4 separate regions of the Homo sapiens genome follow, and regions 1, 2 and 3 are each reported to be linked to region 4. The links are microRNA targets in miRTarBase. Many come from high-throughput screens and were not tested one by one. Region 4 holds a microRNA gene; each other region holds the end of a gene's coding sequence.
What was found. Region 4 holds the annotated microRNA hsa-miR-383-3p (ACAGCACUGCCUGGUCAGA, at 1,717-1,735, shown strand). A microRNA usually pairs through its seed, bases 2 to 8, with sites in the 3' UTR of a target mRNA and lowers its output. Matches are read on the target gene's strand: a 7mer-m8 pairs with bases 2 to 8, a 7mer-A1 pairs with bases 2 to 7 and ends in A, and an 8mer does both.

Region 1 (3,247 bases), not on the chromosome of region 4:
CCTGGGTTTGATCCTCTTGAAGTTGTGGGACTTTAGACAAGTTATTTAAATTCTTTAAAACTGTTTCCTCATGTGTAAAAAATGAATACTAATACATCTTCATAGATTTGCTGTGACAACTCAATGAAATAATGCATATAAAGCACTTAGCCAGATACCTGGAATGTAGTAAGTACTCAAGATTTGTTAGCCGTGTTACTGGAACATTTTTCCCCACATTATAATTGTTTTTATAGTAAAGAAATAGAAGGAACTTGTTCTGCTTTTAATCTGATTTTCTCTTTTTTATTTTGTCTTCATCTTATTCAGTGTCTTTTTCCTTGGAGCCATCCTTGTAATAACAGCTACTTTTTTGTATGGTTATGATCCCAAACCTGCAGGAAATCCCACTAAAGCATAGTTGTATACTATCTTTAACTGGTTTTTCACGATGGGGCACTAGGAATCTCGACATTAATCTTGCACAGAGGACTTCTACAGAGTCTGAGAAGATATCATCATGCTGAATCTGATCATACTGTTTTTTAAAAGTTTAAGGATAAGACATGTGTATATGTAACAAAACACATTGCATCTAGAAATCAAAACTTGAAAGTATTTCCAGGGATTAGGATTAGAAGGAATATTAGAGGAAACTTGAAATCTGAGTTTAAAAAGATTTTACCTTTTTGATTGCTGCAGAAATGTCCTATGCACTCTTTGCAAGAGCACACAACAAATGTCAGATACCAATTTTTGCAAATTAGATTTAATCTTATTAAATGTTTTTATCTTACTCTTTCTGTACAGATATATCAAATCACATGAAATATTTAAAGTTTGAAAATTATAATTACCTATAAAGCTGTGAAAAATAGAAGTATAATTTGAAAAAACATTTCACTTATCAGAGATTTTTATATTTATACAAAAGATTACTAAATGAAGGATTGCTAAATGTTTTTGGTTCAATTACATAAAAATTAATATTCTGGGTCTGATCTGTCAGAGAATAAATATCAAATCTAAATTTAATGTAGAGATACATACTATTTCTCCATATGAATTTTAAGATATTTTAGTGCTTCAAGACTGCTGAAAGCAATCCAGTTGCTCCTGTGCTAGATGGTAGCCAGAGAATTTTATAGTAATGGAGGTTAGCCCTTAATCTCTTCATTGCATTTCATTTCTGTAAATCAGATTAAGTCCTTAATATTATTTTAAATTAAAATTTGTGTGTAATTGCCATTAAATTTTCAAAATGTAATTTAAAAGGATTAAATACTCATTTAATAATTTAAAATAATTATTGTATAATATCTACATTTGGAGAATTTTGAACTATCAAGCATATACTGTATACAGTTAGAAAGTTATTAAATGAACATTTTACTCATTGATCTGTAAAAACTTCTTTAATCTACAACTGTTTACAAAAACAACATTCAAACAAATAGTACAGATGTCAGTGACAGAACAAAATGACTTTTCTTGGAGACATTCCAGATTGCCATATTACTTTATTTTAAACAGCGCTATGACTTTAAATCCAAGGCTGCTCGGAAGATTTTTTTAGGTCTCTCATAAGCCTATTCTTCCCTGATCACATGAGTGGGAGAGGTAGCCAAATTTTGAATTCCCTTTCTGTGTTCCCACAAGAGCTGCTGAGAAGGCCTGGCGCAGTGGCTCACGCCTGTAATCCTAGCAGTTTGGGAGGCTGAGGCAGGTGGATCACAAGGTCAAGAGATTGAGACTATCCTGACCAACATGGTGAAACCCCGTCTCTACCAAAAATACAAAAATTAGCTGGGTGTGGTGGCACGCACCTGTAGTCCCAGCTACTCGGGAGACTGAGGCAGGAGAATCACTTGAACCCGGGAGGCAGAGGTTGCAGTAAGTGGAGATCACGCCACTGCACTCCAACCTGGGCGACACAGTGAGAGTCTGTCTCAAAAAAAAGAAAAAAAAAAAAGCTACTGAGAAGGAGCCACCATTTTGCTTTAAAATAGTGGGTTTTTTTCCTTTTTAATGAACACTGGAGCTGAGGATGCAGATTACATGAGTTATTTAATAAGTTGATTCAAGAGAGAGAGAGTATATTAGAAATGGTAAGATGATTTGGTGGGCAAAAATGCTTTCTATAATTTGAATATGGGTTTAATTTAATTATTAACTATAGACAGAATTACTTACTGAGTATAAGAAGTATTTTACTGTCTGGGCACAGTGGCTCATGCCTGTAATCCCAGCACTTTGGGAGGCCGAGGCGGGTGGATCACAAGGTCAGGAATTCGAGACCAGCCTGGCCAGCATGGTGAAATCCCATCTCTACTAATAATACAAAAATTAGCTGGGCATGGTGGTGCGCGCCTGTAGTCCCAGCTACTCAGGAGGCTGAGGCAGGAGAATTTCTTGAACACACCAGGTGGAAGTTGCAGTGAGCCAAGATCGTGCCACTGCACCCCAGCCTGGGTGACAGAGCGAGACTCCGTCTCAAAAAAAAAAAAAAGAAAACACACACACACACACACACACCCACAGTATGAATGAAAAAAATAAAATACTTCTTTTTTTTTTTTTTTGAGACAGAGTCTCACTTTGTCGCCAGGCTGGAGTGCTGTGGCGCGATCTCGGCTTACTGCAACCTCCCACTCCCTGGTTCAAGGGATTCTCCTGCCTCAGCCTCTGAGTAGCTGGGATTGCAGGCGTGAGCCACTGCGCCCGGCCTATACTGTATATATTTTTAAAGACTGTTCTAATAGATATAAAAACTGTAAAAAATAAGTATTTTTATATAGCTCTCATGGATTTTATTAAACAGAATTGGCTCAAAAATACTATGTTACAGACTGTTGGGTACCCTTGCCTAACGTGAACTGGCAGTGTTACCTTGCTTTTGCAGTAATAGTCTACAGATTGCAGGTCTCATCAATTCCATCCAAAGTTTAAAAGCATTTAAAATTACCAAATCTTTAAAATCACTTTGGTGGTGATTCCAAATTGGTACCAAGCAAACTTTCTGGATGCCCAACATGATTTTCAGTAACCACCCTTTAGAGTATTTGTTTACTAAGTTCACCACATTTTGAACATGGTAGTTTTAGACTGCAATAATATTTAGACTTACATTATTACTTACTGCTAAGTAAAATCTAAATCCTGCAAATGCACAGAATTCAAGCTGAAATATAATGATTTATGTTTAGCTCACATTGAAGTATTGGTTGGTTACTTATGTATTAATGCAGTGTGCATTCACATTTAATCA
Region 2 (3,247 bases), not on the chromosome of region 4:
TGGGAGGCTCTGGAAGGAAGAGGGGATTGCTGACCCCTTGGCCTCTCCCCACTCCTTCTCTCTGTCTCTTCCCTCTCTCCAGGGGGTGACATCCGTTCACCACCTAGGAGGGGAGCTCCTTGGACCATACAGCAGACGTTGTCTGGGTGACAGATATGGAGATGTTCAGCAGAACAGCCGTGCCATGAGCATAGGACTGACATCTTCCCCCTGTGGTGTCTCCTTCTGCAGGTGCCTTATTAAGTGGCTGGAGGTTCGTAAAGTGTGTCCCCTGTGCAACATGCCAGTTCTACAGCTGGCCCAGTTGCACAGTAAGCAGGACCGTGGACCCCCTCAGGGGCCCCTTCCTGGGGCAGAGAACATTGTATAGCTTACCGCAAGGATCAGACTGTTGCTGGACACGACGTCTGTGTGGAGCCAGGAGGAACACATGTGGTGTCTGTATGGCTGCTCTCTACCTAGGACACCAGCTGCCACTTCTTTTGCCTCATGAAGAACTCTTGGGCCAGCCAAACTGGGAACCTAGGTGTCTGGGTCTTGTGACAACCAAAGCACTTTGACACTACCCCCTGCCGAGAGAAGAGGAGTGGATGAGCCTGCGGGTTTGCCTCAAGAAACTTCATGAGGGTCTCTTACTAACTCCATTACACTCTCTCTCCTGGAGCCTCATCTCCATGTCAAGCAGGAGGGTAAAGAAGGGAACTAAGAGCAGGTCTTTCAAGCCACACCCCCACCTGCGGATGGATGGGTTTCTCTGTAGGCCATGCAGGCCTTTGTCGCAGCAAACCTTCCCAGCAGCCCTTGAGCCAAGTAAAACCAGCACAACCAGCCACCAGTGGTTGGTGAGGCAGTGCCCACAAGGCTCATGTTGTATGCCTTTGATAAGGCCATCTTGGCTTTGAGTAGCAGTGTTCCTCGTCACCCATTTCCCCCTCAGGATTACAACACCTGCTATCAAATCATCTAAGCTGAAAACATGAGATGCGCTTGGAAAGGCCTAGTCAGAAGCCATTTCCTCTTATCATTTCCCTCTCCTATGCACCAGTAAGGCCCGTCCAGAGCCCCAGCAGGGAGTGGGCCCTGAGTCCACACTGTCCCTGAGTGATCCAGGAGGCTGCCCACATCCCCACATGTGCACTGTGGTTCCAGTGTAGCTGCTGTGAGCCCACTGCCACTGCCTCAGAAGGGAGCCACTGTGAACCTCTCGAGTGGCTCCAAAGAGCAGTGGCTTTTTGAGAATGGCCCATACTTCTGGCCCGGCTGGATGAAGGGAATGCCGACCCTTTGGCCTCTCCCCCTCCTTCCATCTCTTCTCTCTCTTGCCCTATCTCTCTTTCTACTTCAGAAAAAAAAAAAAAAAAAAAAAAAAGCCTGTCATTCACTTTTTAACACTTTATCCCAAATAAGATCCCTGTGTAATTCTGAAGCTGGTGATCCACTTGGAATTGTAGATAGTTTCAGGAAGCTCCTGCAGGGCTGTCCACCGTTGGTGTGTGCCTCAGTATTTGGACTTCCGAAACTGAAAGTGAAAGTGTCTTTATAGGAGAGAAACGCATGCTGCTCTTTGGCTCTTTCTGTCCAACTTTTCTAGAAATGACTCAAAGTCCATTAAGATTTGTGAATATTGTATAAATTAGCTATGGAAAGTAGCAGGTCAGATGGAAAATTCTTTTCCACAGCCCTGCTCTCCGCCTCCCTCCATCTTAGGAGCGCCTGCCTCAATTCCTCGTCAACTGCTTTGCTCCACTCCATCCCACAGGTGTGAGTGGGGGAAGTTTTTCATTAGGAATACAGTCTGCGTGACATGGAGAATGGATGGAGGGAGCTTTGCTACTCTGCTCTTGGCATGACTCCAGGATTTTTTTCTGGAATCCAACCTCTGTCCTCTTAGGAGAAGGAACCTGTCCTTGGTTCAGATGGCTGGGCATGAGGAGGAAAATTTCCATTAGTGTAGAACAGTGCTGGACAGAATCCGGTTTGGAAAATTACAAATCCAGTTGGTCAAAATAGGCCATTTCCTATGTGTGACCTATTCGTGGTATGCCAACTGGACTGCTTCCTAAACAGGACGAGGAAAGTGAGGAATATTTTTATATGAAAGCCTTAGCCTGTCTGGCACCCATGAAAAAAACTATTTATGCACTCCTACTTTCACCGTCTTTTTGCATTCTCTATTTGTAGCACAACAGAGTTGAATGCCACAAAACACCCCGTTTATAGTGAGCTGTTTTCAGTGACCAATATCAGAAGGAGGCTTGCTTCTGGACTAGCCTCACTAATTGCCAGCAGCCACCATTTTCCATGGAATGGCCTTGGGACAGATGTCACCTCTGTTATGGGGCTCTAATAGGAAAGAGAATGTTTTTTCCCTTCCTATGATCAATACTGCAAATTATTGCTGCTCACAGCTTTTATAGGATTCTCCCAACTGAAAGTTGCAGGCTTTTTCTGTCCCTGTGCATCAGTACTAACAAAAGACAGCCTCACCAAGTCTGTATATTTGAACAGAGGCAAGTTAATTCATCCCCCCGTGTCAGAGCCACAGGCATGTTGAGGGGGTTGATACGTAGCACTGGACCAGGGCGCAAAGCCCAGATAGTTCCAGCCATGAGAGGAGAGCACAAGAATGCTCTGCACTCTGCACTCAGCACCACCTTGGGTCTGCTTTGCCCAGATGAGGGACCACTAACAACCTTCTCAGCACATGTGAATGTGGACTGGTTTTAAAATGCATTCATTCTGCTAGGATTGGGCTGGAAGCTGGAACAGTGAGAGTACTTTTTCTGCTCCTAGTCATCTCCCTTTCTCAGCGTGACATCCTCCTGCAGCAAGCCTAGTATCACTAGCAGTAGTTCCTGCGACTCTTAGCAACACAACCCGAATATTTGCTCCCTGCATCTGGGTCCTCCACCAGGATGGGCCTGCGCATCTGCATTGCTGTACAGACAAACAGGCCTTTTAATTTACATCCTCCTTTAATTCTCATTAAAATCGCAGGGTTTTTGTTTGAAAGACAGTCCTTTTTTTATTTATTTTGAAAAAGGAATGAGTTAGGGACCCCTTTATAACTCTCTTGGCTCAGACTCGAACCCCATGGTAAAGTCACCCTTTCCGCATCTATCTTCAGGAGTTGCTGGGACTTGTTACTGTGTAGCTGCGTGGGGATTCTGGTCTGCTCTTGGACCACTGGCTGGTATCCTTTGTGTGTTTCTTAAGCAGCTCAAAGATAGAATGTTGCTGGTCTGCT
Region 3 (3,247 bases), not on the chromosome of region 4:
AACATACTCATTATTTTTATTTTGAATTTGTAATCTCTTTAATCAAATTAATACAAAGCTATACAGATTATTAACATCTTAATAGTTTTTTTTACTATTATTCCAATTTAGGATGAATGCCATATTGAAAAAATAAGTAATTTATGAAGGACTTTTATTGTTTGTACTTCACTAATTGAATAGTTTATGAGTTACCTGGTAAGACAAAATTTACAGTTTCTAATATATTTTATTTATTCATTCAATCATCTGATTTATCCAGAGCTTATGTGGATGCCAGAGTTCAGCCAATCTATGGTGGTACAAATGAAATAATGAAGGAGCTGATTGCAAGAGAGATTGTCTTTGACAAGTAGACATCTGCCCACATCCTGGAGTCCTATTACAGCTAATCTCGTTTTAAATCTGCTCAAGATAAAATGTAACTTGGAAAGCGAGGAAACACTAAACATGTTTTTACCTGCTCTCTCTATAGAGAAGGAAATAAAATATAAATATAAGATTAACACAGTGGAAGGACAAATCTTTGAAGCCAAAATTCTAGTTTTCCAATATAAGGTTTAACTTACAGTTTTTTATGTAGCCAAAGGTAAACGGTTTTCTGAATCTTGCCTAGGTGTTTCATTTATCTCTAAAATTCTAAAAAGCATAAATCATTCAAATCTTCAAACCAAGGCAGAAATAATTTTATGTCGCTATAGTATAAAAACATTAATAAGATAGCACATTGACTTTTAAAGGGAAAAGTAAATATAACTTAGCATGTAAACTCATTTCGGCTACCATTTGCTCCAAATTCCCTAGAACAGTGGTTTTTACCACTGTACTCCAACCCCGTTTTTAAGCAATGGAACTCTTTCTTCAAACAAAAGCTTATGCAGAACATCTCTGTGAAACGCTGCTGAGTGAGAACTGCTTTCATTGAAGCTGGAAGCCATCATACCTTACTGCCTTGAAACCCCTAGGACTCAGCTAAGTATTTGCCTAACCCTGACCAGGGAATGCCTTGGTTCTGTCAATTGCTGACATCTGAGAACACAGAATAATCCATCATTTTTAATTTCAAGATATTGGTACATTTTATAGGTATCAAAGCAATGGCTTTTCTTTTGCAACAGTTAATGTATTTATTAACTTAATAATTACTTTATGTCTTCTATAAACCAGGCTGTTAATACAATGATGACAAACAAAACTGGCAAGATCACTAAAAAATAAGTGAATAAACAAATAAGTAGTAAAATAAGGTAAGAAGTAAATATGTAAAAGAGATAATTTCAAGCATAAGTGCAATGTAAATAATAAAGTAAGCATTTAAAATTCAAAAGTGAGGAAATGACATTTGATTTAAGACTTAAAAGTAATTACAAAAAATAAACCATTAATTTAAAGTAGCTTTAACATGGAAACAGATGTATTCTTACTCAACTTAGAACACAAACATTTTATTTGGTATTGTTGATATTAAACATTGTTTTTTAATACAACCATTACAACTGGAGAGAGGAGAGGGAAGAAAAAATATTTTGATACCAGTCTTTTTAAAATTTTTTTTATTGTACTTTATTTTTTAAGATGGAGTCTCGCTCTGTCATTCAAGGAGTGCAATGGCGTGATCTCTGCTCACAGCAACCTCCGCCTCCCAGGTTCAAGCAATTCTCCTGTCTCAGCCTCCTGAGTAGCTGGGATTACAGGCACGCACCACCACACCTGGCTAATTTTTGTATTTTTAGTAGAGATGGGGTTTCGCCACGTTGGTCAGGCTGGTCTCGAACTCTTGGCCTCGTGTTCTGCCCACCTCGGCCTCCCAAAGTGCTGTGATTACAGGTGTGAGCCACTGCACCCGGCCTTTTTATTATACTTTAAGCTCTGGGATATATGTGCAGAACATGCAGGTTTGTTACATAGGTATACACATGCCATGGTGGTTTGCTGCACCCATCAACCCGTCATCTACATTGGGTATTTTCTCCTAATGCTATCCCTCCCCTACCCCCCTACCCTCCACAGGCCCTGGTGTGTGATGTTCCCTTCCCCGTATCCATGTGTTCTCATTTTTCAACTCTCACTTATGAATGAGAACATGCAGTGTTTGGTTTTCTGTTCCTGTGTTAGTTTGCTGAGAATGATGGTTTCCAGCTTCATCCATATCCCCACAAAGAACATGAACGCATCCTTTTTATGGCTGCATAGTATTCCATGGTGTATATGTGCCACATTTTCTTTATCCAGTCTATCATTAATGGGCATTTGTGTTGGTTCCAAGTCTTTGCTATTGTGAACAGTGCTGCAATAAACATACGTGTGCATGTGTCTTTATAGTAGAGTGATTTATAATCCTTTGGGTATATACCCAGTAATGAGATTGCTGGGTCAAATGGTATTTCTGGTTCTAGATCCTTGAGGAATCGCCACAATGGTTGAACTAATTTACACCCCCACCAACAGTGTAAAAGCGTTCCTATTTCTCAACATCTTCTCCAGCATCTGTTGTTTTCTGACGTTTTAATGATTGGTATTCTAACTGGCGTGAGATGGTATCTTATTGTGGTTTAGATTTGCATTTCTCTAATGACCAGTGATGATGAGCTTTTTTTCATATGTTTGTTGGCCACATAAATGTCTTCTTTTGAGAAGTGTCTGTTCATCTCCCTCACCCACTTTTTGTTGGAGTTGTTTTTTATCTTCTAAATTTGTTTAAATTCCTTGTATACTCTGGATATTAGCCCTTCATCAGATGGATAGATTGCAAAAATATTCTCCCATTCTGTTGGTTGCCTGTTCACGCTGATGATAGTTTCTTTTGATGTGCAGAAGCTCTTTAGCTTAATTAGATCCCATTTGTCAATTTTGGCTTTGTTGCAGTTGCTTTTGGTGTTTTAGTCATGAAGTCTTGGCCCATGCCTATGTCCTGAATGGTATTGCCTAGGTTTTCTTCTAGGGTTTTTATGGTTTTTAGATCTTACATTTACATCTTTAATCCATCTTGAGTTAATTTTTGTATAAGTCATAAGGAAGGGGTGCAGTTTCAATTTTCTGCATATGGCTAGCCAGTTTTCCCAACACTATTAAATAGGGAATCATTTCCCCATTGCTTGTTTTTGTCAGGTTTGTCAAAGATCATATGGTAGTAGATGTGTGGGGTAATTTCTGAGGCCTCTGTTCTGTTCCATTGGTCTATATATCTGTTTTGGTACCAGTATCATGCTGTTTTGGTTACTGTAGCCTTGTAGTATAGTTTGAAGTC
Region 4 (3,000 bases):
AGGAGACTAAGGCATGAGAATCGCTTGAGCCCAGGAGGCAGAGGTTGCAGTGAGCCAAGATTGTGCCACTGTACTCCAGTTGGGTGACAGAGCAAGACTCCGTCTCTAAATAAATAAATAAATAAATAAAATAATGGAGATGCCTAGGAAGTTGCATCAAAGTTAGATCTTGAGGGAGGTGGGAGAGCATACCAGATAAAGTCGGGAGCGGGATTTCCCAAGAGAGGCCATAGCATGGACCTCTGCATGATTGTTCAGGCCCCTGTGGACATGCTGACATATCTCTGTGAATAGTGGCAGTGCAGCCTTTGATGTCTAGGGTAGCAGAGATTAAAGAGGGCCACTCTCTGCCGGGTTTATATGCCCTGGGAGACTGATCCCAATTGACCTACTCTCTCCTTTCCTCTCTATGAAAATAAAATGATAATAGCAAACTAATTCCTGCTGGTATTCCTGAAATAATCCAACAAAAGTGAAAAAAGAAATCAGAAGGACCAGTAAATCCTTCTTCTCTCTACTGTTTAACACCAAACTATATTACTGTATGTATTCAAAATATCTTATATTTGCAATAATCATATCTACGATGACTATTGAAAAATAATGAAAACCACTGGCTTCCTATTATGAAAACAATATTACACAATGTGAAATTTATTAATTTTATTAATCTAAGAAGTGCCTTAATATTTAGTTGATAACTTATTGACAGTATTTATTGTAAAAATAAATGTGTATATTTTTATCTTTTCTTTCTGCTTTAGATATGTTGTGGAACAATGTTGAGTCTAAATAAACTACAAATTATATATTTTTGATATGTCTATGTATTATCTTATTCAATGAATACAAATTAACTTTTTGTTTTGTGAATTGCGAATGAAATAGTAAAGTGAGTCATTTTGCATATAATGTTGTTAACACCAACTCTGTGTCAAAAGCCCAACATTTACAAGTCAAAAGTTACTGCATTTAAGATGATTACTAAATAGTGAAGATGAGGTAACACAAAAATCAAACTAATAACAATAATGTATTTCAATTTACATTTTGTGACTCTGTGCAAGGAGATATTGTAGCTTTAGACAGAGTATATAAAATTAGAATATATATACAAAAGGATATATATATATATATATATATATATATATATATAATATAATCACATAGAAACTGATGTCGTTACAAAATGAATGACTTAGGAGTAGGCAAATTTCGACCTTTGATATAGGCCTTGAAAGATCCTTGAAAGGTGTGTATTTTGTATTGGCAAGGAGGAAGGAAGGCTTAGGATAAGCTGTAGTCATGTGAAAGCATTGGATATTGGGACTAAATTGGTCTTCTGGTTCATCTGAAGAAAGAACAGAGAAAGGAAAATTCCAACAGTAGTTAGAAAAGCCTTGTTTATTTTTCTCCCTTCCTCTCTCCTTTCCCAAGCGTTTCACTAGGAAAGAAAATAGCTCTTCTATGGTACCCATGTAATACTAATTTCTCAGCGTTGTCATTCTAGGAACTGCCAATGATTGATGACAATCTATTTAGATTCAGTTCTTTAAAGGACAAAGCAAACCACTTCAGTGACTGAATTTTTTTTTAACCTGCAATGTGTATTGTTTGATTATGTTTGCATAATTTATCAAGAGACTTCAGAATCTCCCCGTCACCTGCTCCTCAGATCAGAAGGTGATTGTGGCTTTGGGTGGATATTAATCAGCCACAGCACTGCCTGGTCAGAAAGAGCAAGTGTCCTAGCCTTTACCTCATGAGACCTTGGGTATCCATCCAGCGTAGGTCCCAAGGGAACTGCATTTGGTGGACTGGAGTGGCCAGCATGCTTCAGGTGAGATGAAAAGTGCCATGTTTAACCTGTGTTTGGAAGCTTGTCTTTCTCATAAAATACCTAGTTGTTTCCTCACATGAGCATTTTGATCATTACCTCCTCTTCCCCACTCTTTAACATTTTTATACCATAAAGAGAAAATAACTTGGGATTCCATGCAGACATTTGAAATTCATGGGCAAAATCTTCAAACTGCAAATAGTACAAGTTTTATATGCATGCTTTAATTTGACTTTCTTCAAATATGAATGCTGCTATAATGCACACATGCAAAGGCCGCTATTGGAATATACTTTCTATGTATCCTCAGAAGCAGAGCTGGCCTCTGGCTGGTAAGTGTGGCTGCCTCATCAGCAGTATATATCTGATCATCTCAACAGTGTTTTCCATTCCTAGTAAAGGAAAAGCCCCATAGAAATAGTAACATATGTGTTTAGGAGCTAACGCTTCAGGAGAGTTTAGACGAGGAGATTCTGGGAACAATACCACAGGAATCCAGGAAAGACTTTGATGCAGAGAAAGGCTATTACTCCATGAAACACTACAGATGGGAGGTGAGCCAAAGAAAATTTTTTGTACTTTGCAATGTTTCCTTAATATGGTCCTGCTCCAACATAATGTAATTATACAAGCTGTGGTTGCCAAAAACTAAATATGAACAAAAATGGAAAAGACAAGATGTTTGTAGGGGAGACTATAGGCATCTGGCGTGCAGGGAAAAAAGTCAATAAATTGTTCAACTGAGGTGAAAATTAATTCTAGAATATTTTCAGGCAATTGTTGGTAGGGTGTTTGTTACTTTGGGCTGGTGTGTACTCGATGGCAACTTTTGTTGAATTAATTTTTGATTTTGATTAGACTTTTACTCAATCACATATAATAAGTACAGCTTCCTTTCTTGAGTTACAGTTTACTATTTCCTTAATATTTAGAAGCATAAGAATATTCTGTAGCCATATATCAACTGAGATATCTTTGAATATTTTTTGTCCTATAAATTATTTACAAAGTATTATGACTGTAGAATACATTTTACCTTGATGAACTATTTCTACCTTTCAGATGGTTCTTGGACTTGAACATAAGGCAATATAGTACATGCTCCAAATATTTACAGAAATTATTTTGTATCACTGAAAAAATATTGCGCTTGAGATTTT

Region 1: miRTarBase lists SLC35A3 as a target of hsa-miR-383-3p. Seed matches in the 3' UTR shown: 7mer-m8 at 2,593-2,599.
Region 2: the mRNA of RNF24 is a reported target of hsa-miR-383-3p. Seed matches in the 3' UTR shown: 7mer-m8 at 1,958-1,964.
Region 3: miRTarBase lists ACADL as a target of hsa-miR-383-3p. The part of its 3' UTR that is shown has no 7-base or 8-base seed match.

The regions. Positions count from the first base shown.
Region 1 is chr1:100,022,077-100,025,323 of GRCh38, forward strand. SLC35A3 (solute carrier family 35 member A3) reads left to right here. Exons shown (of 8, transcript NM_012243.3): 8 at 310-3,247. The coding sequence ends at 400. All of the region lies in intron 1 of LOC124904230 (a long non-coding RNA gene), which reads right to left. Among named protein-coding and RNA genes, the nearest start is that of SLC71A1, 14 kb to the right of the region's middle.
Region 2 is chr20:3,931,186-3,934,432 of GRCh38, reverse strand. RNF24 (ring finger protein 24) reads left to right here. Exons shown (of 6, transcript NM_001134337.3): 6 at 232-3,247. The coding sequence ends at 370. Among named protein-coding and RNA genes, the nearest start is that of MIR103B2, 15 kb to the right of the region's middle.
Region 3 is chr2:210,186,070-210,189,316 of GRCh38, reverse strand. It overlaps ACADL (acyl-CoA dehydrogenase long chain), which reads left to right. Exons shown (of 11, transcript NM_001608.4): 11 at 263-1,394. The coding sequence ends at 356. Among named protein-coding and RNA genes, the nearest start is that of KANSL1L, 16 kb to the right of the region's middle.
Region 4 is chr8:14,852,178-14,855,177 of GRCh38, reverse strand. It overlaps MIR383 (microRNA 383), which reads left to right and starts at 1,668; the gene lies at 1,668-1,740. The region is part of intron 1 of SGCZ (sarcoglycan zeta); the gene reads left to right.